Linked DNA regions of Homo sapiens. The protein of the gene in region 1 purifies or fractionates together with the protein of each later gene. This does not show direct contact. Each region holds a gene or a part of one and is shown in the gene's direction. Other genes may lie near its edges.

Evidence for each region. The genes of interacting proteins can lie anywhere in the genome.
Region 2: the proteins of TENT5C (region 1) and EEF1D purify together in Homo sapiens (affinity purification with mass spectrometry, with the first as the bait; 2 studies listed by BioGRID). This does not show direct contact.

The regions. Positions count from the first base shown.
Region 1 is NC_000001.11:117,612,409-117,616,058, forward strand, and holds part of TENT5C (terminal nucleotidyltransferase 5C), read left to right. Parts: intron 1-3,650. UniProt on the Homo sapiens protein: Catalyzes the transfer of one adenosine molecule from an ATP to an mRNA poly(A) tail bearing a 3'-OH terminal group and enhances mRNA stability and gene expression.
Region 2 is NC_000008.11:143,590,838-143,594,487, reverse strand, and holds part of EEF1D (elongation factor 1-delta), read left to right. Parts: exon of another isoform or gene 1-592; coding exon of another isoform or gene 593-595; exon of another isoform or gene 596-1,827; 5' UTR 1,828-1,841; exon of another isoform or gene 1,842-2,276; coding exon of another isoform or gene 2,277-2,399; exon of another isoform or gene 2,400-3,650.

The DNA.
Region 1 (3,650 bases):
TGCTGATAAAATCTTCTGAGACTGGCAGGGGACCAGGACTCAGTTTATCAACAATTAAGTTTTATCAACAATTAAAATTTGAGTGAAATTGCAAGAGGAAGTAACATTCAAGTCAAGTCAAAGTGTTTGAGCTGTCTGGTGACAGCACATTAATTACTTGATGAACGCTAAACATGAGCTGCTGCTATGCGCAGTACCTGGAGGCCCGGAACCTGCAACTTGAATGCCAACTCCTAAGGGAAGGATCCATGCAAAACAAAAACCTGGATGGAACTATGCACGTAATTAGCATCTGCTCTGAAATGGAGGTCAGCTCACACTTAGACACTTGTGAATGGGGTGTGTTTATGGTCTAACGTATGATAAGGGTGGCATTTGAGGAACTAAGAGTTGCTTGTCCCTTTCCTGATAAGGCCTGGGCAGGGAAGCTGCTAGTGATTAGACAGGACTTTTAGCTGACTGAGGTCTTCCTTTTGGACAACTGTTTAAAGCTGTAGGCTGGAGAGTTAGATGGTAAAGTAGCCTGTGGAAGCAGCCTTTGATGAAACCCGGAGGCTGTCAGCTCTTAAACCCTGTGGATTACGTGTAAGCTGAGTCATTCTTACAGTAAGCAGTCTCCTCCTTAGGAATCATCTCATTTTTCTCAGTCTGGGCAATCTCTAAAACAGAAAGGCAGGCTCTCTTTGGGGAGCTCTTTAAATGAATTCAGACCAGTAACACCTCTGATCTAGAAAGAAGCAGTTGATGGTGGGAAGGTGGTTACCAAGTAGCAACAAGGATTATTTCCATTTCAAGTTGTGTGTGTAGCACTTAATGCTGACACCTTGGAAAAAAATCAAGGCTTTTATGCCCTGCTTCCATCTGAAGATGTCTGTGTCCTGACCTTGTTAATATTTCCATTTGCAACCACGTCAGAGTATACCTTTCAACACTTGAACTTGTGTGGCATCCCTGCTGTAATATCTAGGCCAGTGTTTTGATTCTGTTTGCTGTTTTGCGGCCACAGCATTAGTTCTTCCAGCGTTATCTCTCCACCCACACTTGCCCAAGCATCCTATTTTCAAAGGTGGGAAAGAGCTTTCTGTTTGGAGTTGTCGTTGGTGGGTGTCTATGGATGGAGCCCAGTGATAACCATTCAGACTGTGTGTTGGCTTCTCACTTCTTAGTGGGAAGTGAGAATTCATGGAGGCCCCTTAAACAGCGGAGATCACAGCCTGGTTCTGTGGCCTGCCTGGGTTTCAGTCCAGGGCTGCTTTCCACAGCTCATGTGGGAATCTAACCACATTTTTTGACTCTAGTAAACATCATTGGTAAATGGCTGGAGGATGATAATAACCTTAAGAAAATAGAATGAGACGCTGGCTGAATGCAATGGAGCTGAGAGTGAGAAAAGACCAACTGTGGGGTTTGTTGCGTCACTGACTTAGAAATGTTTTCTCTGGGCACAGCTTTGTGGCCTGGGGCAGTTACTTCTTTGAACTCAGGTAGAATGTGTTGCGGGCATTTAAGTGGGCAACTGTAAAAATAACATCTTGGAAAAATAGTGAGCATAGGATATATTTTATTGGCCTTTTAAAAAGTAAAGCATTATTTTATCTGTTTTTATTGCTTCAGGCCATTCATAATCTAAGCTGCTATTCCATGTACATGAAACACTCGAGTGTCTGTTATCTGTAACTTTCATGTGTTTGGGGCTGTGGAGGAGTCTCCAGAATGTGGCCCCCTCCCTATGTGGGGGGTCTGGCCCTAGGGAGGAGCTGGCAGACAAAAGCCTTCCTTAGACTGCCTCCAAACCCTTCCTAGATAACTTCTGGCCTTCATCCCCCAAGGAATTCAAGGAGTAAGAGAGGAGGATTTTTTTCAGAAGGCCATATCCATGTTGACCCTGGTTTTTCTCGTTTCTGCCCGGTTATCTGCTGCTGCACATGCCAAGCAAAATGACCAAGGTCCATGGTCATTCGAAGCGCCTGGCTCTTTTCTTATGGGTGAAAGAATCTCAAGGGTCAAACTACATGCAGGTGGGGGAAGTGACGGTGTCCAGTCTCAGGTTCAGCATTCATGAGGTCCTGTGTACGTTCCAGACTTTCTGCTTTCAGTTTTGTTCCAGCTCTCCTTCCTGGGCTGGCCCTTTAAGTCCTGGTCACTGCCTGCAAATTTATCAGCCATTTCTCTGTAGCTCCAGTTGGGTTATTGGCTTCTTTGATCTGAGAAGGTTGCCGTCTCGACTGTAGCTAGTGTCCTGTTCTGTTGCTTCATCAGCCTATCAACACTCTGATCTCCCAGCCATCAGAGGAGTCTCAGTAATTGTTCCTTTATTCCATGAGCAAAGCAGCATGCCTTAGTTTTCTGGATCAGGATCAGCCCATTCCTGATAATCTCCCTCCTGTGCCATTAATTTTTCCTCTTATTACTAGTTCAGCAAGGCGACTGTGCAGCACCTTCCACTCTTGGGTTCTCTCTCTCTTCTGGACTTGGTTTCTCTAAAATCACCACTGTTCTGCAACGTAGCAAGCATCTTGGAGCTCCCTGGGAAGTTAGGATCCTAGGCCTTCATCTCCCAGCCATTGTTCCTTTAAAACAAACAGTAGCATAACGATTAGCATTTCTACACTTAATCACATTCAGTTCTGGTGGCTCCAGCCTGCAGTTTCTATGCTGACAGTTGTTAGATACTTCAGTTCTAAATGCTTCTCCCTTGCTTTCAGAATTTGCCATCTGGCCTTACCTCACTCAGGTGGCCTTAGCGGTCTAGCCAAACTTCTTTCCTACCATCTTATTTTTTAAAAATCTTTATACCTTCCTTCCTTTTCTTTCTACTTACTGTCATCTCCTTCCTCTGACCATCTAAGCACAACCAGCTCTTCTTCAAGCTCCCTGCCCCACCAAAGCTATCCACCTTTTAGGAAGACTCTTAAATTCCATTTCTGCTACTCACCAGCAGTGCATCCTTGGACAGTTTACAATTTGCACATCCTCTTTGTTCTCCAGTTTTCCCATCTGTAAGTGGGGGAGTAGGAGGAATGGTATCTCTTTTATGGGTTGTTATAGAAATCAAATGATTGATCCAGGTAGAGCCCTGAAAGCACTGTTTTACTGCCTATTTGTGATGTTGTAAAAGAGTTGGTGGCTCATTAGGGTACCTGGCTAAACATCTAGTCACATGTGGTGTCCCCTGGCCATGGCTGTGGCTGCCGCCATGTGAAGAGCCCTTGGAGGGCTCTGCATGTATTAGCACCTGCCAGAGAAAAGGATGTGGGCAGAAGCAGACGTTTATGTTATGAAACAATGTGCTCCCCCGCTGATAAGTGGGATTTCCCACACACTATGGCAATATATTGTCTTCCTTGGTGTCTCTGTGGCAGGGGGCACCTCTAAGCCACCTGGCATCTTTTGCTTAACTGGAATCTGCACAAAAGCAGAGAGTAAAGGCTGATTCCAGCTTTTTGCTATCTTTGGTGTGTATGGTGGGGACGGGGCAATGGAAAGACTAGGTCTCACGGTTACATAGTGAACAGAAGGTTGCTGTGTCCTTTTTTGTTAGGACCAATAACGTCTGTTTTAGAAAAGATCACTTTAATGGCTATGAGAACTGGTGATCCCAGTGCACATGTGGGTTGTGACATGTGCTTGTCACTCCGTGTCCACCTCCC
Region 2 (3,650 bases), on another chromosome or scaffold:
TTGGTGGCCACAGCTCTCCAGGATGTCCTCACCTTCCTCAGGGCCCTGCCCTCCTGACCTGGAGTGTTCTGGGTAGGAGTCTGCCGGGGCTGCTCCCAGGACAGGGACAGGGGAGGCTGTGAGGGCCATGCCGCTGCAGTGGGTCTTGCTGGCTGCCACCTGTGTCACAGGCCCTGTTAGCTGGGTGGAGCCTTCCAGAGCCAGGACCCCAGGGCACTCTCAAACTCTGGGCAGCTGCCAGAGGCTCAGGTGCTTGGCAGACACTGTCTACCCCTCAGGGAAGAGCCTTGGTGGTGAGCCTGGCCTGCTTCCAGGAGCAGAGTAGGGACACTTTGGCCACTTCCCCCTGGGGCCTGGCTCTGGCGTTTCCAAGACTGCTTCTCTGGCAGCCAGCTGTCTCCCTGTGTTCTCTTTAGAAAGCTCCTCCTGAGCTTGGATAAACTGCAGGAGCGAAGGGGCTGACCGTTTGTCGGGACGCAGTTGAAAGAGTCGCTGTGTCCTGCTCCGGGCTCTCCTGCTGGAGAGGAGAGGCTTGCACGTGCCTGTCGTCTGCGCAAGCTTTGAAGCTCAGACTTGGTCTCTGTTAGGAGAGATGGTGCGCTGCGTCCGGCAGGTCCTCCCATGCTTGGGAATGCGGGAAGCGGGGAAATGAGGAGGTGGGCTCGGACGTGTGGGGGGCTGTGCTGGCTGTCCTGGGAGGCTCTCTGCCCGCTGTTAGTGGCCAGCTCCCCAGGTGACGGGCCTGGCCTCCAGGTCTCCAGCATGGCTTACTGTGGTGTCTCCTGAGGGCTTCCTCTCTGCAGGGAAGCCCACCCAAGATCCCTCTTACTGGTCCCATGGGGCAGCTGCCTCCGTAGCATCCTCGTCTCCACCAGACCCCTGCAGGGTGCCCAGTTCCTCCCTGCAGGGTGCTCCCTGCTGCAGTGTGGGGTGCACAGAGGTGGGCAGGGCCCTGGGGCCGGAGCTCCCGTTGGTGAAGGAAGACGGATCCCAGCCAGGGCTCTCGGGTTGATCAGCAGTAGGAGGTGGCCCCTCCTGCCCAGTCCCACCCAGGACATGGGCTGGTGGCTGGGCTTTCAGCTGTGCCCAGCTGCCCTTCGCAGAGCTTGCAGGGTTTATGAGGTGGCTCTGGTGAGATTAGGGGCAGGACACCTAGTGTCTCCAGCCGAGGAGTGAACTGGGTGGAGGTCCTGTCCTTGTGTGCACATTGTGGGAGAGTCAGTCTGGGAGGCCTTTGTAGCTTGTGCTGGGGCCCTTGGGTGCCAGCCCTGTCTTGACGGTGGCTCCTGCTGAGAGAGAGGCCCTGTATTAATGTGAGCCCTGGGCTGCCTCCCCCTTGAGGGTCCTTGTCATCTTCCGGGCCTCCTTCAGCAGACCGGACACAGGGGCAGTGCAGGTGAGGGGCTTGGGGGAGCTCCTTGGCAGCTCCAGGGGATGCTTGTGGGCGCTGGCTTATCTTGTCTCAGGCTACCTTGCTCAGGTGACGACAGGGTGGGTGGATTTGGGAAAGGTTGGCTCAGATAGTGGTCCCTGCTTGTCCCCCAGGGCCTGCCTAGGCTCCAACTGACAGTAATCCCAAGAGCTCCCCTTTCAGGGGATGACGGAGTGACGTCACCTGTGTGGACTCAGCTGCCACCTGGGATTGTGGTGGCGGCGGGTCTGTCTGGCGCTCAGCTTCCATCTCCACCAGTGTCACCTCCACACCACCTCGCCAAGCAGCTTCTGGAAAGGCCCCCGGCCGCCCCGGGCTGACCTGCTGCTGTGTCTGACCCGGTTAGTCTTTCTGGCTGCCTCTAACCTTGCTGCTTTTCCTTCATGCTGTCCTAGGAGGCCAAAGCAAAGTAAGTACTCGCCTGTCCTCATGCCCCATTCCCCTTCATTTGACCGGGGAACCCCCAGCCCTCGCTGCACCTGAGGGAACCCAGCACCACCTGCGCATGGCCCAGTCTGCCCAGAGGGCCTCAGTTTCCCATCTGGAAAGTGGAGGAATTGGGTTTTCTGGATGGGGCAGCAGCAGGTGGGCACCCTGTGTGGCCGTGAGCAGGGTCCTGTCCTGGGCTGGCGGGTCAGCAGCTGACATGCGGCTCCCTGCAGGGAACAGGTGGCAGTGCCAGGTCTCGGTAGGAGCCTTGAAGTGGCTTCCCCTCCCTGAGCGGCGGCTTCTGCCCGGAGCCCCCAAGAACATAGTCTGAGGCCACTTTGGCCAATAAAGTCTGGTAGGGCATCAACACTGGGGGCCAGCTCAGTGGCACTGCTGATGGGACCTGCACGGCTCCATGGGAGCAGAGAGACTGGTGGGGGTACCACCGCACGATGTCACAATGCCCTGTCTCCTGGGCTCTTGCTCCCACCCCACCCCCAACCCACAACCCCTGCCTCTGCCCATCAGCCTGGCCTTGGTAAGTGCTGCCCCAGCCTGGGGAAGGAATGAGCAGGGGAGCCTAGGGAGCGTCTTCATGGGCCCTGTGGCCTCCCATGGGCCCCGGTTCCTCGTTGGTGCCATTAGAACTTGTTGCTGGGACTGCGGGATTCGGGCCACATGCCCGCAAAGAACTCCATGTTCCACTTAGAGGCTGCAGAGTGCAGTGCCAGGGGTGCCTTCCCAAAAGTCCTCCCTGCCTGGGTGGAGCGTAGACAGCTCAGCACCCCACGGGGGGCGTTGGAGCCAGCCTTGGTTTTGTTGGGTAAGGATGTTAGAAGAGGGGCGAAGACCCATAGCCACTGGTGTGAAGGGTCTGCTCTTGACCGAAGGCTGCCTCCCTCTGGGTGCAGACCAGGCAGGTGGTCCCAGTCACGGTGCCCTGGGGCCACTGGGTCTGTCTGCCCTCAGGCTCCACTAGACACACCTGCGGAGGCAGCAGACTAGCAGCGGTGTCTGTGAGGGGCAGCTGCACAGCCCCCTCTTGAGGGTGCTCCTAGGCGTTGGTTAGGCCCAGGCGTTTCTGCTTTTGGGGAGCAGAGCCTGGAGTCGGGCATGGCTGGGGAGGAAGCTATCGCAGGCTGAGCGCGGGCTGGGGTGCTGACCTGCATCCCAAGAGCAGATTTGCCCCTGGCCTTCTGGGCCTGTCCTTTCTGTAACACCACACTGGACACCTGGGAGCAGAGCGTGCCCCCGGCAGGATCCCACATGGCTGCTGGAGCACTGGGGCAGCAGGTGACTGAGGTCGCCCAGAGCTTGAGGGAACACCTCATCCAGGGAGGAGGCTGAGGCTCCCAGGCCACAGTAGCAAGTGGGGAGTGGAGCCTCACAACCTGCCTCCCACCAAGATGGTCCCTCTTAACATTACACAGAAGCAAAACCTTAGAGGGGGCCCTGATGTCCTGGGACTGTGAGAGCCCCATGATTCCCCTTTAGCTTGGATGGACCCAAAGGTATGGACTCCAGCTGGGAGGCGGGGGCAGCTGATAGAGAGCCTAGAGCCGTCTCAGTGCTCCAGGCGCTTGGCCCCTCCTTTCTACACAGTGGTCACCAGCATCCTCCCTGGCGTCTCCTTCATGAGTGGGCACTCCACCCTCTGCCCGGCCACCTGGCCCCCTCCTGGGGAGGACAGTCAGGCCCACAAAGAAGCTCCCTCTTTTTTTTTCTTTTCCCCTGCTCTGTTGTCCAGGCTGGAGTGCAGTGGCGCCATCTCGGTTCACTGCAAGCTCCG